Homo sapiens: one gene and its partners. The protein of the gene in region 2 purifies or fractionates together with the protein of the main gene of each other region. This does not show direct contact. Each region holds a gene or a part of one and is shown on either strand. Other genes may lie near its edges.

Region 1 (5,553 bases), on a different chromosome or scaffold from region 2:
CACACAGGGTGCCCTGATGGGACTGCCCTGCAGAAGTCACACTGACCTGGTGACTTCTCAGTTTGTAAGCATTTTTAACTTACAGCCTTCGATGTAGCTACATGTAGGAAAGAATTATGTACCTGTAGAATTACCTGTGTGGGGGTGCTGGAGCTTATTTCCCTTCACTGGGAGCTGGTCGTGCTGACATTTATATTGTAAGCTGAGTTTCACTTCCTAGAGTCATAAATCACAGTTTGGTTATCACACATTTGCACTTTGGTTATCACACAGAGACATTTTCTACCAGACACTGCCACTGTTGACCTACAACATGTAGGTCATGTACTTTGAACAGCATGTACTTTGTAGAAGTGAACAGTCCTGGAATGTGTCCATCTTGGTGAGTATAGGCCTTAAAGATTCACAGTACATACGGTCTCTTTTGTAGATGAAGTGCGCACAGGAACCTATAGGCAGCTCTTCCACCCAGAGCAGCTGATCACCGGGAAGGAAGATGCGGCCAATAATTACGCCAGAGGCCATTACACCATCGGCAAGGAGATCGTCGACCTGGTCCTGGACCGGATCCGCAAACTGGTAAGAAGAGAAGGCTTCATGTGACCATTGTCCTGCACAGGAGGGTAGATCTTAGATTGTGAAGGGGAGGTCATTTTGTCAAAACCTAGACCAGTGCGTTGGCTGGGTCTGGTGGCTCACGCCTGTAATCCCAACACTTTGGGAGGCCAAGGTGGGCAGTCACCTGAAGTCAAGAGTTTGAGACCAGCCTGGCCAACGTGGTGAAACCCTGTCTTTACTAAAAATACACACATTAGTCAGGCGTGGTGGTGCCTGCCTGTAGTCCCAGCTACTCAGGAAGCTGAGGCAGGAGAATGGCTTGAGCCCGGGAGGCAGAGGTTGCACTGAGCGGAGTTCATGCCACTGCCCTCCGGCCTGGGCAACAGAGTGAGATTCTATCTAAAAAAAAAAAAAAAAAAACAACTTAGAACAGTATCTTGAGTCCTATTGCGTCTGCAATGGTCTTAGTCTGAAGTATGCATGGTGATTTGTCTGTAGATCTTTGTCTGCTTTTCTTTGCTTCAGAGTGTACTGCGTGTTTATTATGGATGATTGGAATCCATATCAAGTCTTCAGAGGCAGAGAAGTGGCCCTGGCTTGGTGGAGGTTGGTGGTGTGGCTTCCACGGGCATTGATTCATGTTGTCTGGTTTCCCTCAGGCGGATCTGTGCACGGGACTGCAGGGCTTCCTCATCTTCCACAGTTTTGGGGGTGGCACTGGCTCTGGGTTCGCATCTCTGCTCATGGAGCGGCTCTCAGTGGATTACGGCAAGAAGTCCAAGCTAGAATTTGCCATTTACCCAGCCCCCCAGGTCTCCACGGCCGTGGTGGAGCCCTACAACTCCATCCTGACCACCCACACGACCCTGGAACATTCTGACTGTGCCTTCATGGTCGACAATGAAGCCATCTATGACATATGTCGGCGCAACCTGGACATCGAGCGTCCCACGTACACCAACCTCAATCGCCTGATTGGGCAGATCGTGTCCTCCATCACGGCCTCCCTGCGATTTGACGGGGCCCTGAATGTGGACTTGACGGAATTCCAGACCAACCTAGTGCCGTACCCCCGCATCCACTTCCCCCTGGCCACCTACGCCCCGGTCATCTCAGCCGAGAAGGCCTACCACGAGCAGCTGTCCGTGGCTGAGATCACCAATGCCTGCTTCGAGCCAGCCAATCAGATGGTCAAGTGTGACCCTCGCCACGGCAAGTACATGGCCTGCTGCATGTTGTACAGGGGGGATGTGGTCCCGAAAGATGTCAACGCGGCCATCGCCACCATCAAGACCAAGCGCACCATCCAGTTTGTAGATTGGTGCCCAACTGGATTTAAGGTATGACTGGGTAATGTGGAGTCCTTGTACCTTTCAGCAAGCAACAGACACACAGAGTAATGCTGCCCCTGAAGGCCCACATCCTTTGAGGATACTACCCCTATTCCATGGGCTAGGCATGTGGGCATCAATTAGTGAACCAGAGTGATCATTAATTCAGTGATGTCTTTTTTTTTTTTTTTTTTTTTTTTTTTTTTTTTTGAGGCAGAGTCTAGCTTTGTCGCCCAGGCTGGAGTAAAGTGGTGTGATCTCAGCTCACTGCAATCTCCATCAGCCTCCCAAGTAGCTGGAATTACAGGCACCCACCACCACACCCAGTTAATTTTTATATTTTTAGTAGAAACAGGGTTATGCCATGTTGGCCAGGCTGGTCTTGAACTCCTGACCTCAGGTGAGCCACCCACCTTGGCCACCCAAAGTGCTGGGGTTAGAGGCGTGAGCCACTGTGCCTGGCCCAGTGATGTCTTTTGAACTCTTTCTAAGTCATTACACTATGTATCTGTGATGAGCTTTACTTACTTACTTTGTTGTTGAGAAGGCTGGAGTGCAGTGGTGTGATCTCGGTTCACTGCAACCTCTGCTTCCCAGGCTCAAGTGATTCTCTCACCTCAGCCTCCTGAGTAGCTGGGACCACAGACATGCACCACTACACCCAGCTAATTTTTGTGTATTTAGTAAAGGGATTTCACCATGTTGGCCAAGCTGGTCTCAAATTCCTGGTCTTAAGTGATCTGCTTGTCTTAGCCTCCCAAAATGTTGGGATTACGGGCATGAGCCACTGTGCTCAACCCTATTTATTTACTTTTTTGAGACAGAATCCCACCTGTCACCCAGGCTGGAGTGCAGTGTGGTGATCACAGCTCTCCACTAAAAATACAAAAATTGGATGGGCATGGTGGCCCATGCCTATAATCCAGCACTTTGGGAGGCCAAGGCAGGCGGATCACCTGAGGTCAGGAGTTTGACACCAGCCTGGCCAACAGGGCAAAATCCCGTGTCTACTAAAAATACAAAAATTAGCCGGGTATGGTGGCGGGCACCTGTAATCCCAGCTACTGAGGAGGCTGAGGCAGGAGAATCACTGGGACCCAGGAGGTGGAGGTTGCAGTGAGAAGATATCACTCCACTGCACTCCAGCCTGGGTGACAGCACAAGACTCTGTCTCAAAAAAAGAAAAAAAGACAAGATCATACAAATTCTAGGCCTTACAGGTTACACGACCTCTGTCACACCTACCCCACTCTGCTGTCGGATAGCAAAATCAATCTGCAAATGAAGGGGTGTGGTGGCTGTGTTCAGACAAGATCTTACAAAATTAGGTGGCTAGTCCAGCAGCTGTGCTAACCCCTGAAGGAGAAGAAGAGACACCCACAGTAGGAAATCCCAGTCAGAACTGACTGCAGTGGTCTCCCCCAACAGAGACGGTGGGGGTCTGAGCCAGAGGCAGCAGGGAAAGCACAGCACAAGAACGCACAGGCCCAACAGAGAAATGCCACAAGATTTAGTAACCAACTATTGATAAAGCTGAAAGAGGACAGCAAGGTTTCTTTTGTGTCAGTGGAAGGTGGGGACAGATTTTGTGTCTGAGGCAAACCCAGGCCAAAATTACTAGGCTTCCCGGAAAAGAAATAAAGACGTTGCTGCTTTTTGTTTTGTTTTGTTTTGTTTTGTTTTTGAGACGGAGTCTTGCTGTGTCGCCCAGGCTGGAGTGCAGTGGCGTGATCTTGGCTCACTGCAAGCTCCGCCTCCTGGGTTCATGCCATTCTCCCGCCTCAGCCTCCCGAGTAGCTGGGACTACAGGCGCCCGCCACCACACCCGGCTAATTTTGTTTTTGTATTTTTAGTAGAGACCGGGTTTCACCATGTTAGCTAGGATGGTCTCGATCTCCTGACCTCGTGATCTGTCCACCTCGGCCTGCCAAAGTGCTGGGATTACAGGTGTGGGTCACCGTGCCCGGCCTTTTAATTTTTTTGAGACAGGGTCTTGCTCTGTCACCCAAGGAGTGGTAGGATCTCAGCTCATTGGAACCTCTGCCCTCCAGGCTCAAGCAATCCTCCCACCTCAGCCTCCTGAGTAGCTGGGACCACAGGTGCATGACACCATGCCCAGCTAATTTTTTTGTATTTTTGGTAGAGACAGGGTCTTGCCATACTGCCCAGGCTGGTCTCAAACTCAGTTCAAGAAATCCACCTTGGCCTCCCAAAGAGCTGGGATAATGGGTGTGAGCCACTGCACCTGTTGCTGTTTTCATCACAAACAACTCATTCTTTTTTTAAATCAAACCCTACATGAGACAGTGGAACGAATGATGTTGTGAAGCAGTTTATAGTAATGCCCAAGTTAAAATAAAATATATACACCACCTACAAGATTCCCCAAAATGCCCATAAAATTACTAAGTTCAACCTACCTTTTCCACATGAATTCTACCACCCAAGAAAGGGGCACAAAAATCCTTTAGAAAATACCTTATTCTTAAAAAAAAAAAAAAATGCTGGGCATGCTGCCTCATGACTGTAATCCTAGCACTTTGGGAGGCTGGGGTGGGTGGATCGATTGGGCCCAGGAGTTTGAGGCCAGCCTGGGCAACATATGTTGTCTGGAACTGTCACCCTGCCTGGCACAGAGAAGGGCTTAGTGACATTTGTGGGGTGAACTGAGAATTCTCCTGTTCACCTACAGGGTGTCTTCTTTTTGAGGAAAAGCAGCCACCATTTCCAGGTTTGATATAAGCTTCATGGACTGTTTCTTCCTCTTCTCCGGCAGGTGGGCATTAACTACCAGCCCCCCACGGTGGTCCCTGGGGGAGACCTGGCCAAGGTGCAGCGGGCTGTGTGCATGCTGAGCAACACCACGGCCATCGCGGAGGCCTGGGCTCGCCTGGACCATAAGTTCGATCTCATGTATGCCAAGCGGGCCTTTGTGCACTGGTACGTGGGAGAAGGCATGGAGGAGGGGGAGTTCTCTGAGGCCCGCGAGGACCTGGCAGCTCTGGAGAAGGATTATGAAGAGGTGGGCGTGGATTCCGTGGAAGCCGAGGCTGAAGAAGGTGAAGAATACTGAGGGGAGGGTGTGGTGGGTTCTCCACTCCACTGCCACCCCCAGCGTGGCTGCTTTCAAGTTCTTTGCAATTAAAGGTTCTGTATAAAACCAAGACCTCTGTGTATCGTACTGCCTAGCTTTGCCTGCAGGAGCAGGTGGGACCCCCAGAGCCTGCATGGACAGTGGTGGGGTGCCAGCCTGCCCTGCTAGCATGGAGTTGGGTGCAGCGGGATGGTACATACTTAAGGAGCTGCCACAGAAGTAACTTGACACGGAGAAATAGATTTCCTAAATTCTAGGAAAGCACAGTCAGGGTTTTCAACTGAATTTGCAACTTTGGGGGCTTTTCTATTGATGGGTGATGCGAGCTACAAAGAAGAGTCTAGACATGGAGTGTTTAAATCTGAGGTCTGTGGATGGGGCTTGTCCATGAAATCCCTAAAGCTGTGGGTCAAATGTGTAAGGTCAGGACATTTTAGAAGGGAAAGAGTGTTACTGTGTTCTGCACAGCATTCGTGACCCATAGAAGGTTACAACACACCCAGCCTTCCACAGTAACCTGGAAGACAGCATTTGCCCTCCGTGCACACACACGGCCACTCTGCCCCTCAG
Region 2 (7,724 bases):
CGGATCAAGAACGTGGGACTAGGCCCAGGAGTCAGGCCCGGGGGCAGCTCACCTTGAGGACCTCAGCGCCCGTCTTGAACTGGTAGCTCTGGTCCCGGCTGGTAAGCAGGTAAATGGCTTGGCTCACATGGTTTCTGGCATCCTGGATCTGGAAGCAGGGGTCATCCAGAGGGGTCACGCCAGCTTCCATGCGGCCAGGAGGGGAGAGTGGGTGCTGCCTGCCTGCCCCACGTCATTCCACTCTCCACACTGTCATCCCTGTGCCCCAGAGGGCCAGGTCCACGCCAGGTGATGGGCATCTGGCATCACCTGGGGCAGGCCTGGTCTCTGCCCAAGCTGACTGCCCCCTCCTTTCTAAGGGATGGACACACAGTAATGCCCAAGACAAGAGTCTGTGCGAGTTGCGGAGGGAAGCAAACAGGGCGACAAGGCAGGGGCAAGGGTGCTGAGATGGAGACAGTCGGGGTGGAGGGGGCAGGGGAGGAGGCTGGGGCCCATTGGTACAGGAGCTGCCAGGGAGCATGGGCCTCATCCCCAGAGCCATGGCAAGTCCCTGGAGGCTCTGGGCAAGGGAGTGACTTTTCAGAGGGCTTCTGAACCATCTCATCCAGCCAGCTGCTGTGGGGACTCCACAGTCCCGATGTGGCCCTCGGGGCTCTCAGGCCAGGTTCTCTACCTCCCCACATGGCGCAGCCTCCAGGGCTTCAGGAAACGCCTGCCCCCAGCTTTGCTGTTAGGAAACACCCTCCCAGGCTTGCTGTGGCCACAGATCCCCAGGGCTAGTCCCTCTCCAGGGAGGCCCCGCGGCAGGCCTGCTGCCGCCTGTCCTTGTGGCTGAGCACTAGCCAGGAGGGGCGGGGTCACCTGCTGCAGCTTCCACTGCTTGTCCTCCCGGAAGGCGAAGTGCAGCAGCTGGTTGTTCCGGGGCATCTTCAGGTTCACATCCTGACAGGCAAGAGTGGGGTGAGCTGGGCAGTGGGGGGGCACCTCCTGCCACAGCCACTCTGAGCCCTTAAGCCCAGGGCAGAAATGGGGTGTGTGGTGGTTCAGGCCTTGGCCGCTGTATAGGGCAGAGGGTCTCCCAATGCCTTGGCCGTTTGGGGGTTGAACAGGGAGGTCAGGAAACAGGAAACCAGGCCCAAGAAGAGCCACAAAGAAGTGAAATGGAAAGAGGTGAAGAAAGGGGAAGGGGAAGAGGAAAGGCAGCCTCTGTGAGGCTCTGTGCGAACGGGGTGCATCTAGTGTCTACAAAGGGCAACAGATGGAGCCCAGGAGGGGGGCCTCCCCCCACGCCTTGGTGCCTGGCACAGAGTCGGGTGCAGACTGGAGTTCAGGCATTGGCTGATTCAACTGTGATGTGTGGCCAGCCTAATCCACCAATGCCCATGTTTCACTGGTCCGGACGCCAGGCCAGGCCGTGTGCAAAGAACCCCTCTCCTGCACCTCTTACTGAATCTGCACACCGATCCCGGGAGAAGGTGTGAGGGTTGCTGTCATTTTCCAAAGGAGAAAACTGAGGCCAGAGAGATCAAGGGTCCCGCCCAGAGTCGCAGGGCTTGTACAGAGAGAAAGTGGGAGCTCCCATGCTCTTCCCCATTGGCAGGATGGGAGGGGACAGGGCCGGGGGACTCACCGCCTGGCTGAGGGCATCCCCCTGCAGAGTCAGCACACCCTTCACCTGGTCTGTGCTGTAACATGTGGCGTCAGAGCGGTGCCTGTGGTCACCCCCCCACCACCCAGCCCTCCCTCCCGGCGGGCTGCCCCTCCTGTCCCATCGCACAACCAGCTGGTCTGCAGGACAGGGCTATGGCCATGCCTCCTACCCCCCAAGGTACCCATTTCCCCGGTTTCCGCCTAGCCCAGGCTCACCCACAGCTGCCTAGGATGAAGTTCTCTTGCTTGGCGGGCCCCTCAGTGCCGGAGCCCGGCAGAGTGAAGCGCAGAGAGGCCTCCTGTGGAACAGAGGGAAGGAGGGGAGCTGGTAGCGCCCACTCAGGCCCGGCCCAGTGCTCCTTCCAGAAGCCCCCCTCCCTCCAAGTCAGCGGGGGGAAGGAACAACGTGGCCTGGCCTCACCTGGGTTCAGCTGGGGTGGGAAGACCCTGCCCAAGCCCCCAGGGCACCTAACCGTGAGCCCGATCTCTGCTTATACCACATTCCCTGAACACCTCCTGTGTGCCCGCCTCGGGGAATACAAAACAGACAGGGGCAGCCTCCCAGCTTGGTTGAGGGGGAAAGGGGCAAGGGGCAGAGTCAGGGAACAAGGCAGTAGTTATGGTAACCCGCGGTCCTGGGCCACAGCAAGCACTACGCCGGTTACTTCTGTGAGCTGCCTGGCTCATTTATCTACACCCCAGCCTCGCGAAGCGGGTACTGTTATCTCCCTTTTGCCAATGAGAAAAGGGAGGCCCAGGGAGGTTCAGTGACTTGGCTGAAGTCACACTGCCAGGCAGAGGCAGAATTCTTCGGCTCCCAGATTGGATGCCGCTGCTCCCAAGGCGGCCTTCCCCGACCCGAGGCCGGGCGGGACTCAGGCCCTTGCTAGCACCCTCGTCGGGACCCGCCCCTGCCCGCACACAGGTACTTATATAATGAGGTCGGCTCGAGTTCGCGGAGGCGGGGCCCTGCCTGAAAGCCGCGGCAGCCGCACACTGTAGGCGCTCAGGACGCAGCCGCGCGGCCCCAGGTGGAGCCAGGGAAATGAGGAGGGAGGGCCGCCACGCCCGGCGGGGCAGGGCGCGGGTCGTTACCTTGAGGATGTCCTGCAGCTGCTTCAACACAGCGTGCACCTCGTCGTGCAGCAGCCAGCGGAACTCCTCCTCCTGCGGGACAGACCCGGCGGTCGCGCCCGGCCCCGCCGCCCCGCCGGCCCGCCCGCTGGCCCGCGCGCCTTACCAGCACCGCCCGCTCCGCCGCCGTCGCTGCCATCACGGTGGCCATGGCCGCAGGCCGCCGCCGAGCGCCCTCCCCACCGGCCGCTGCTCCTGTCCACCAATCTTTCTGTCCTCGGTCCTCCGGTCCTCCCGTCCGCCCCCGGCGTCTGGCTCCGCCCCCACCCGATTGGCGGAGCGGGTACCACCCCGCCCCCAGGCCGGCTCCGTGCTCGCGATTGGCTGGCGCCTGTCGGTCCGCCTCGGCCCCCGAAACCTGCGGGAGCCCTGGAACCAGACTGGCGGCTGCGGGAGTGAGGCTCGCTCCGCCTGGCCAGGGACGCGGCCGGCGGCTGCACGAGTCAGGCTTGCTCCGGCTGGCCAGGGACGCGGCCGGCACCAGCCTGGGGCGCCCGCTTGGGGGCGGAGCTCCCGGGGCGCCCCCAGGATATGATAGGGCGCTCTGCTCCACTCGCGCTCACTCATTGGCCGGCAGGACAGTCTGTCCCCGCTCCTCCTCCCTATTGGCCCGCTTGGCTCCATTGGTCGTGGTTCCAACCCTGCCGCGGACCTCGCCGCCACTCCCAAGTCCGTCTCACCCCGGACGCGGAGGTCCCGAAAACCCACCCCGGCCCCGCCGCTGCCTTCTCCTCCCACCCATCTCGCCGAGGACGAGGGAAGCAGGACTCCTGCGGCACAGCTGTGTTACCAAGAAGTGTTTTATTTTTCTTGCAGTAGCTTTGTTAATTGCACAAAATCATGTTTTGTTTTTGCCATTTAAACATTATCACACAATCCTATTCTGAAAGACAAATGTTCATTAAAAACAAAGCAAAAATAAAAATTCACAACCTTAATTACCTAGATTTGTCATTTAAAGGTTTAAAGAAAAAAGGGAGGGGCTTTCTTACAAGCTTTTTCACAAGTGTCACATTTTCTCCTTAAAAGGGAAGGATTTCAAAAGAAAGGTGAAATAGCTTAAACAGAAATATTCATAAAAAGGAACTTTACAGAATTGTCAACAATATTAAGACAAAATTGACTAACCGGTTTCATTACCGCATCTTCCCCCGCCCCCACCCCCAGTGTGTTCCGCCAGGACTAGAACAGGCTTTGTGTTCAGACAGAAATGCTTCAAAATCCCAGTGAAATGAACTGTGCTAAAAACCCGACAGGCATCTTCCCTGCCCTCCCCCCACTCGTCTTCTGCAATCCTCTAACCCAGTTTCTAATCTCTGAAAGGGGCCAAAGCTGTGAGGGGGGAAGGACCCCGCCCTAGTGTGGCCACCCTATATATAATTACATATTGCATCGTAAATGCTGGCCTTCCTTCTGCAAATTATGATTTTGGAAAATCCAACCCATGCAGAGGGATAAAAAACTGACATCCCTTGGGTAACTTTTTTTTTTGCAACATTCCAAGCCCCCCCCGGTCCCCTATCCAAGGACAAATGTAGGGCCTCTAGGATGTCCCAGACCCACCTCGGAGGGCCAGTCAGTTCAGGTAGGTCAGGCCCAGTTCTCTTCCCTCCCGACAGACCCCGGGCCCGGGAAGCACCGAAGACCATGATGCTGGCTGGAGTGAAGACACTCGTTTCCGTATCAAGAGCTGAGCCTAAGAAATGCTCATCGTTGGTCAGGCTGGGTCTGGGCCAAAGGGACAGACAGAAAGAAATACTGTCTCCACGGGAGGAAGAGGGAGAGGAGGGAGGATGGAGAGCGGTGGGCATGCAGGGGACTTGGCAGGGCAGGGTGGAGAAGGTGGGACCACTGGGAGGGGACCGAGGTAAGAGTGGCTCTTCAGAGCCAGGTGAAGAGTCTGTGGCCTAACGGAAACAGAAAGGAGCGCCCCCAACCCCCACTCCTCTTGGCTCATCACTAGTGGCCCTGAGGACTCCCTCCCAAGGGATGGAATGCAAATCCAAATACTAAAACAGCCTAGGGAGGAGCGAGCGCCCGCTGTGGCAGTGGCATCTGGGGCATGGCTTCGAGGCGGTGAGGGCCGGGCCTCCATGCTCACCTGCAGGCCGGCTGCTTGCTGCACTCCCTGGAAAGCCAGGGCCCCATCTTCTCGGGACTCTGCCAGTCTCTTTTCAGTTCACAAAGGCGTCTATGGAGCGCTGGGTGCACACTGGACGCTTAGACGTGAACATCTTTCTCAGCTCATCACCTGAGGTTGGAGGGCCCCAAGGGCCCCTCTGTCTGGAGTCTGTACTGGCTCATCTGGGCCCAAGGCCTCTCCTTGTAGGGAATCCAGTGGGGGATGGGGACATGACTACAGCCTCTTCGCTCTGGGGGAAGCTGTGGGAAGGCTTCCAACTCTCGTTGCTGATTCTAGTTCCTTGACTGGAAGGGGTTTGAGATAAGACAAGCTCGGAAGAAAAAAAGCCAGGCAGCAGTTTCTGGGCAGCTTCTATCCTGGGGCGAGAGCCTGTGTGTGTGTGTGTGTGTGTGTGTGTGTGTGTGTGTGAACACACAGCCACCTCGTCCGGGGGGCCAGTGCCCAGCTCAAGAGCTTTCCCACACGCCAATCCTGCTGACACTTGTCCCCTCCCCACCGGCCTCAGGGGAAGGGTGCTGCTGTGTGCTGTGCTGATGGCAAGTCTCAAAGTCTGTATAAAAGGAAATGGAGATAGGTGGGCTGGTCCAGAATGAACTCCCAGGCCCCCGACCCCATGTGAGGAAGAGGGGGTCAGAGGGGGGATTGGAGGGGTGAGGGCGGGGTGTCGACAGCTTAGTGTATGTAGGCTCGGTACACGGCGGACATATCGTTGTCAGACTGGTCCAGCGCCTTGGCTCTTTTGTACACCTGGAAAAAAAAGAGATGGCTCAGTCTCTGGCCCCAGAGCTGCCTTCAAGACCTAGACCTGATTCCTGGAGGCAGTGGTGGATGTGGCCAGCAGGCAGTGCTGGAGCCCAGGCTGTCCGGTTAGGAATCCTGTGTTGACCTTGCATGAAGCACCTCCGTTTCTCTGGACCTCAGCCACTGTGCTTCTTGCTCTGGGAGAAGGAACAGTACCCGGGGGATCTTGTGAGAATGAAATACACTATGGGATATAAAACATTCAGCATTGGCCGGGCACTGCGGCTCATGCCTGTAAGGCCGAGGTGGGTGGATCACCTGAAGTCAGGAGTTCGAGACCAGCCAGGCCAAAAAGGTGAAACCTCATCTCTACTAAAAATACAAAAATTAGGGCCAGGCGCAGTGGCTCATGCCTGTAATCCCAGCACTTTAGGAGGCCAAGGTGGGTGAATCACGAGGTCAGGAGATCAAGACCAGCCTGGTGACCGTCGTGAAACCCCTTCTTTAAAAAAAAAAAATACAAAAAATTAGCCGGGCATGGTGGCAGGTGCCTGTAATCCCAGCTACTCAGGAGGTTGAGGCAGGAGAATAGCTTGAACCTGGGAGGCGGAGGTTGCAGTGAGCTGAGATCACACCACTGCACTCCAGTCTGGGTGACAGAGCGAGACTCTGTCTCAAAAACAAAAAAAGAGCAAAACTGTCTCAAATAAATAAATAAATGAATAAAAAATAAAACAAGGGCAGATGAAACACCCAGGACACCTATACCTCAGAGTGAGAGTTCTCACACCTGTGGTGCTTCTGCCCCCAGGGGACATCTGGTAATATCTGGAGACATTTTCTGTCACCTGAGGAGGAGCTATGTCACTGGCGTCTGGTGGGTGGGCTACCCAACATCCTGCAGTGCTTGGATAGCCCCCCCACACAGAATGGCAGCAGTGCCGAGGTTGAGAAACCCTGCCTTAAAGGATGAGGGAGAGGAAGGGGGAAAGAAATGCTTCTGTGTGGTTGCAAAGTTTTTACATTTAATGGGAAATGGTACAAGATTAACTGTCTTTTTTTTTTTTCTTGAGACAGGGTCTTGCTCTGTTGCCCAGGCTGGAGTGCAGTGGTAGGATCATGGCTCATTGCAGCCTCGAACTCCTGGGCTCAAGCAATCCTCCTGCCTCACCTGCCTCAGCCTCCCAAGTAGCTAGGAATAGGGTGCTCGCCACCACGCCCAGCTAGTTTTTTATTTTTTTTTGTACAGATGGGGGTCTTGCTATGTTGCCCAGGCTGGTCTCAAACTCCTGGGCTTGCTTAAGCCTCGACCCTGCCTCGACCCTGCCTCGACCTCCCAAAGTGCTAGGATTACAAGGATCACAAGTATAAGCCACTGTGCCTGGCAAGATTAACTCTATCTTAAGGATTTATACCGCAATCTGTAGAGTAACCACTAAAAAAAGAATGCAGAGGCAAAGTAAAAAAGAAAATAGATAAATGAAACTGGAATTCTTTTTTCTTTTTTTTTTTTTTGAGATGGAGTCTTGCTCTGTCGCCCAGACTGGAGTGCAGTGGTGTGATCTCGGCTCACTGCCAGCTCTGCTCTGCCTCCCGGGTTCACGCCATTCTCCTGCTTCAGCCTCCCGAGTAGCTGGGACTACAGGCGCCCGCCACCACGCCTGGCTAATTTTTTGTATTTTTAGTAGAGACAGGGTTTCACCCTGTTAGCCAGGATGGTCTTGATCTCCTGACCTCGTGATCCACCCGCCTCGGCCTCCCAAAGTGCTGGGATTACAGGCGTGAGCCACTGCGCCTGGCCCCTTTTTTTTTTTTTTTTTTTTTTGAGACGGAGTCTTGGTCTGTCGCCCAGGCTGGAGTGCAATGGCACGATCTCGGCTCACTGCAACCTCCGCCTCCTGGGTTCAAGTGATTCTCCTGTCCCAGCCTCCGGAGTAGCTGGCATTAATAGTGCCCGCCACTATGCCCGGCTAATTTTTGGTATTTTTAGTAGAGACTGGGCTTCACTATATTGGCCAGGCTGATCTCGAACTCCTGACCTCAGGTGATCTGC
Region 3 (4,934 bases), on a different chromosome or scaffold from region 2:
ATTAAGCTCATCATCATTATTTATATTTTAACTATTTGGGAACATCCAAGAAAGCAATAAGGCATTGATTTTTATCTTCTGTGAAGTTTTTGGGAAAAGGAGAGAAGGAAGCAAAGAAACACGCTTCTGAAAGGGTGACAGTAAGGAACTGCCTGGCTGGAAACAGGAACCGAACTTTAACAGAAAGAGTTAACAATAACCATACATTTGGTTTTAAAATGTGACCTCGTACACTAGTGATTTTTTTTCACCTCTGTGTTGTGTTCAGCGCTATTATTAATGCAGGAAAATCAGTAACATTAGTCATCTTAAAAGGGTTATTACTCAAGATGATTTAAATTGTGAAAATGTCAGTGGAGCCTGCACACACTCTGCTAGAGATGCCATGATTTACGCCCTCTGACACCATCCTGCTGCTGAGAAGGGCTAGAAAAAGGAATGGCTTGTGTTTTGCACTGATCCACATGCAGGGGATGATGTCAGTGATAACGCATCTTAAATGTCCTAGGATTTGCCAGAGTTTCATGGATCAACCATTTGTAGATGTTGGATCATAATCTGCATGCTTCATGCAAATCTCTAGAATCTTACATCGAGATGGAGGTTATACTGGAGAGAAGCATTGGAAATGAAAATTAGTACAAAGAAAAAGTGTTATTTCCAAGGCTTCTTTCCAGATTTTCAGTATTCTTTCCATGTGATATTATAATAGCACACATAATGCTATTGAAGATATTTTAAGTAATATTTAGAATCTAAAGAAATCTTCAGACTCAGTTGCTTAGGAAACAGTTCACTTAGACAGCTACCATTCAGTATTTAGTACTTCAACCTGAATGCATAGTTGTTCATGATTCATAATTTCCATGTTGTTTTTCATTTATGTGGCTGGATTAAGAAAACCTAAAATTTAAATCCAGAAAAACTGCCAAAAAGCAGAAGTTATCAATTGATAAAAAGGTATTGTCAATAAAATATTAACAGCAGACTCTCCTTAGTATGATAGCAAAACAGTGAGGCACAGACATAGTGTTGAGATGAAATTGATTCTGGTTCTGCACTTTATAATAAGCAAGAGCTTTCCAGAAAGCGAGTTTTTAAAAAGCAAGTGAAGAGTGAAGGTATTAGTAGGTGGGAAATGGGGGTGGAAGGGAGTCTTGAGCTTTATTTGATCCAATTGTCACTCTATCTACTGCTTAACTTTGCTTCCTTTTCTTGAACTAATTACAAATCCCAAAACTTGTCTTCGCTGACTCATCCTTCAGGGAGTGAGTGCAGTTAGCATTGTGGTAAAGAACATGAAAGTCTTCAGTTTTAAATATCCACAATTTCCAAATATCTGTGTTGTCTAAATGAACCATTTTATTAAGAGGTATAATTTAGCCCTCTTCCTAAAGATCCATGGACTCTCCTTTTGTCAGGTTCTACCCCTATAAAATTCCTCTAGATTTCTGCATTTACCATAACAGCATCGGAACAATTCCAAGCACACTGAAAGGAACTTTTGAGAGGTTAAGAACAAGCTTAGGTGAAGGAGAATAACCATGATGGAGGGGAAAGTAGCCAGGAGAGATCGACCCAGTCTCTGTGATAGGGAAAGGGAGAGGGCTGTTCAAGTGACACATGTGCTCTCCTGTCCCTCCAGATGAACACGTCACTGCTGGGAAGCATCGGCATGCTGAACTCGGCACCTCAGCTGCGCTGCATTAAAACCTACCAGGTGCCCCCTGTGCAGCCCGCGTCCCCCGGCTCCCACAATGCCCTCAAGCTGGCCCGGCTCATCTGGACTTCCAACCGCAACGTCATCCTCATGGCCCATGACGGGAAGGAGCACCGCTTCATGGTCTAATGCTGCTGCCTGCCGCCGTGACTGCGTTTTAGTTCTCTAAATTATCCAAGCCGATGTTGCTCTGTCCTTCCTCACACCAGATTGTTCCCAGGGGCCTGCCCACCCCAGTGCCATCCAGTGGCACGGCCGGGTCTTGTCACTTGTGCATGCTTCTCAGGGGCAGAACCCGCTCGTGCCATCTGTCGATTCAGAGGCACGCACACATGCTCTGCAGGATGTGGCCATCCTGTCACCAGGTAGTTTTTCCCTGCCAGAGATGGCAGGGGAAAGCCAGTGGTTCCTGGGAACGCTCTTGTTGCTTGGTGCAACAGAAGCACAAAAATCAATAAACACTGTGATTGCACTCCCAGCCCAGATCAGCATTTTTAGCCATCTCAACCGCACCTCTGAAGTGCTGCTTGAATCTGGCCGTTCTGACACTGGGTGTTGAGGTCATGTGGCAGTCCTCACGATTGAAATTATTGCCCTTTGAATTACCTAAAATATTGTTTACCAAAAAGATTCTGTGTTTACATGTTCTTTTCTTCTGGTGATTGCTAGGAAATTACTCAATCCAATTTCCTAGGGTTTAGCTACCACCTTCTTTATCAACAGCTAACCAATTTGAGATTCATGATTAATTATGTACACAAAAATATTTTCCTTGTAGAAAATAGTTTTCCAGACACTTAGCCTTCTGAAGTGCTCATCTCTTGCTTAAATGATAGTCTATTTAGTAGTTTAAAATAAAAATAATCACTCCCTATGATCTAGTTAATGTAATTATCCAGTCACTGTAACTAATCTCTTGAAGGGACTTTTGTGATAAAGAGCCAAGTTCAGAAGCATAGCGTGTACCGAAAATGAAGACTCTCCTATCTACTGCTACAGATCCTGTTGAAGAAAGAGCTTACCCCTTTCCCCCGGAAAACTTGCAATCCTGTAGTTCCCATATGTGTGGCATATGTCAGTTATGAAATTATTATAATTCAGCCTTCAAACTACTACTGATCAACTAAAGGAAAGCTAATAAGGTATTTCTTTTAAACAAGTATTCTGGAAAAGTAATAACTATGGCACAAATGTTCAGGAGTGTATATAAAAATATGTGGGCTCTCGATTTATTTGAGCAAACATTGCAATGAGGGTGTTCATTATGCTTCTAAGTAAGCTTTAACTAGACCACTTTCTTCTTATGTCAGATTGTGCTGGTTCTAGCTCATAATAATGAAAAAAATAGAATTATATTTTGTATGAATTGTTTCTAACAAACCTTGATCTGTATATACTTGTGAGGGGTTGTTTGGTTGCCTAATTGTTGATTGGTTGGTTAGTTGGGCAAAATCATTTATTACATGCAAAAATAGAAAATTATTTGTTAAATTCAGAGAAAATATGTGAAGTTTACAAAGGAACCAAAATGATAATGGGAGAATTTAGTCTTAAAAGTTTAGGTTGTCAGAGTTTATCTGATATACAAAAAAGTAGGATCAAAGTCTAGGAACAAACATTGGTTATTTCACTGAAACAGATTTTTAAAGAGCATATTAAGAAATTAAGACCATTAGATCATCTCTTTCATAATGATATGATGTTATTTCCATTGACGGCAAATCTATACTGTTCCTTGGTTTTAGAGTTGGGTATTCTTTCAAAAGTGAATTTAGGCACATGCATGTACATTGTATTTATAAAGATTATATATGTAGTTTCCAAGGAAGAAACAAAGACCTATACAGTTTAGACTTTATTTGTTTGGTGAACGTGCTGTTGTGTTTGGCATAGCTAGAGAAATGTAAGGTAAAAGGCTCACTTTGTTTTCCAGTGGGTCCAGAGTCTTCTCTATACCCAACATATGTTTACTTTATGAACTTAAATGGAAATTAATTTATTGTAGACTACATCTCTATTTGGAATGATGAGGTAAATGTATACCTTAGCATTTTCTTTAACAAAAATGTTCTGTGTGTCAGGAAAGAGGTGTGAGAGTGGTAGGCAGCCTGCCGCAAACACACGGATGGCTCCCCCCGCCACGAAGGTTGAGAACAAAGCCAGGGGGCCCAGAGGAGCAATAGCCCTGGGCCACAAGCGTGGGTAGGCCTTTCACGTATTCCGTCTGCACAGGCAACCAAGGCCAGTAGAAAGCTATGGCTGCAAAACCCTGGGGTGGACGATGTTTGATGATTAGACGGTCATCTCTAACTACTAAACTAATATCTGCATTCTTGTTAACATAAATCTCTCCTTGGCTATTTTAATAGCCACAGTCCCAAACTTCATCCCAGCTTAGATTTCTCAGCACTGAGGTAAACTCTGCATTGTCATCCCAGCGTACACCTTTAATGTTTTATTGATTTCACTGGCACTGTATTTGGACCTGTCCTTGTATATGTAGAGACATATGTGGCTTCATTGGTAATTTACAAGCAAAAGATGACATGACGTGACACCTGTATGAAAATGTGATGATTGAACTCCCTGTGTACAGCGAGTGAATTAAAATGTCTGCCTCTCCAGACATTTCTTAATGATTCCACTTAATAGACTCTATGTGTGCTGAATGTTCCTGTGTACATATGTGTGTTAAATAAAACAATTGTATTGAAGACTGTTTTTCTCACAATATTACCTTTTCCAGTGTTCACTCATCTTAAACATCCTCAGTTGAAATCCGTATGCTCCGCTAGCCCTGCTGCTTCTAATCATTCATTTCCCTGGAGAGCTGGCTTGGGAAAGGCAACTTATTCCCAGAGGACAGTAGAGCAGAAGTGCAGAGGTAAGCTCTCCCTCCAGAAACTCACTGGCACTCTCTGTGGTTTGGGAAAGGCGTTGCATGCCTGTTGCTTTATCTCTACTCTACATGCTCCCAAATAGACTGGTAATGGCACCAAATCATATCTTGTCAGATTGGATGGCATGGGTTGGCTGCCTCTCGGGAGCTAGGCTGAGATCATCAAGTTCATTGCATTTCACGCTCAGTTTGGAGTCGAATTTGAATCCCTCAGGTAAAGGGTATAATTGGTTTTCAGAAAAATCAAGAATAATAAAATAGGTCCTTACTGCTCATAGAGGGTTATGTGTAAGTAGTGAATGTACTTCTTGTCTC

Evidence for each region. Proteins that work in one complex are often made in the same cells at the same time.
Region 1: the proteins of ROGDI (region 2) and TUBA3C purify together in Homo sapiens (affinity purification with mass spectrometry, with the first as the bait; 3 studies listed by BioGRID). This does not show direct contact.
Region 3: the proteins of ROGDI (region 2) and WDR7 purify together in Homo sapiens (affinity purification with mass spectrometry; 4 studies listed by BioGRID and IntAct, with this or other methods). This does not show direct contact.

Annotation. Positions count from the first base shown.
Region 1 is NC_000013.11:19,173,272-19,178,824, reverse strand, and holds the end of TUBA3C (tubulin alpha-3C chain), read left to right. Parts: intron 1-430; coding exon 431-579; intron 580-1,217; coding exon 1,218-1,898; intron 1,899-4,665; coding exon 4,666-4,962; 3' UTR 4,963-5,053; downstream 5,054-5,553. UniProt on the Homo sapiens protein: Tubulin is the major constituent of microtubules, a cylinder consisting of laterally associated linear protofilaments composed of alpha- and beta-tubulin heterodimers.
Region 2 is NC_000016.10:4,799,634-4,807,357, forward strand, and holds the start of ROGDI (protein rogdi homolog), read right to left. Parts: upstream 3,001-7,724; 5' UTR 2,939-3,000; coding exon 2,894-2,938; intron 2,821-2,893; coding exon 2,749-2,820; intron 1,953-2,748; coding exon 1,870-1,952; intron 1,689-1,869; coding exon 1,634-1,688; intron 946-1,633; coding exon 865-945; intron 149-864; coding exon 53-148; intron 1-52. Other genes in the region: GLYR1 (cytokine-like nuclear factor N-PAC), read right to left, coding at 5,603-5,677.
Region 3 is NC_000018.10:57,025,359-57,030,292, forward strand, and holds the end of WDR7 (WD repeat-containing protein 7), read left to right. Parts: intron 1-1,645; coding exon 1,646-1,849; 3' UTR 1,850-4,434; downstream 4,435-4,934.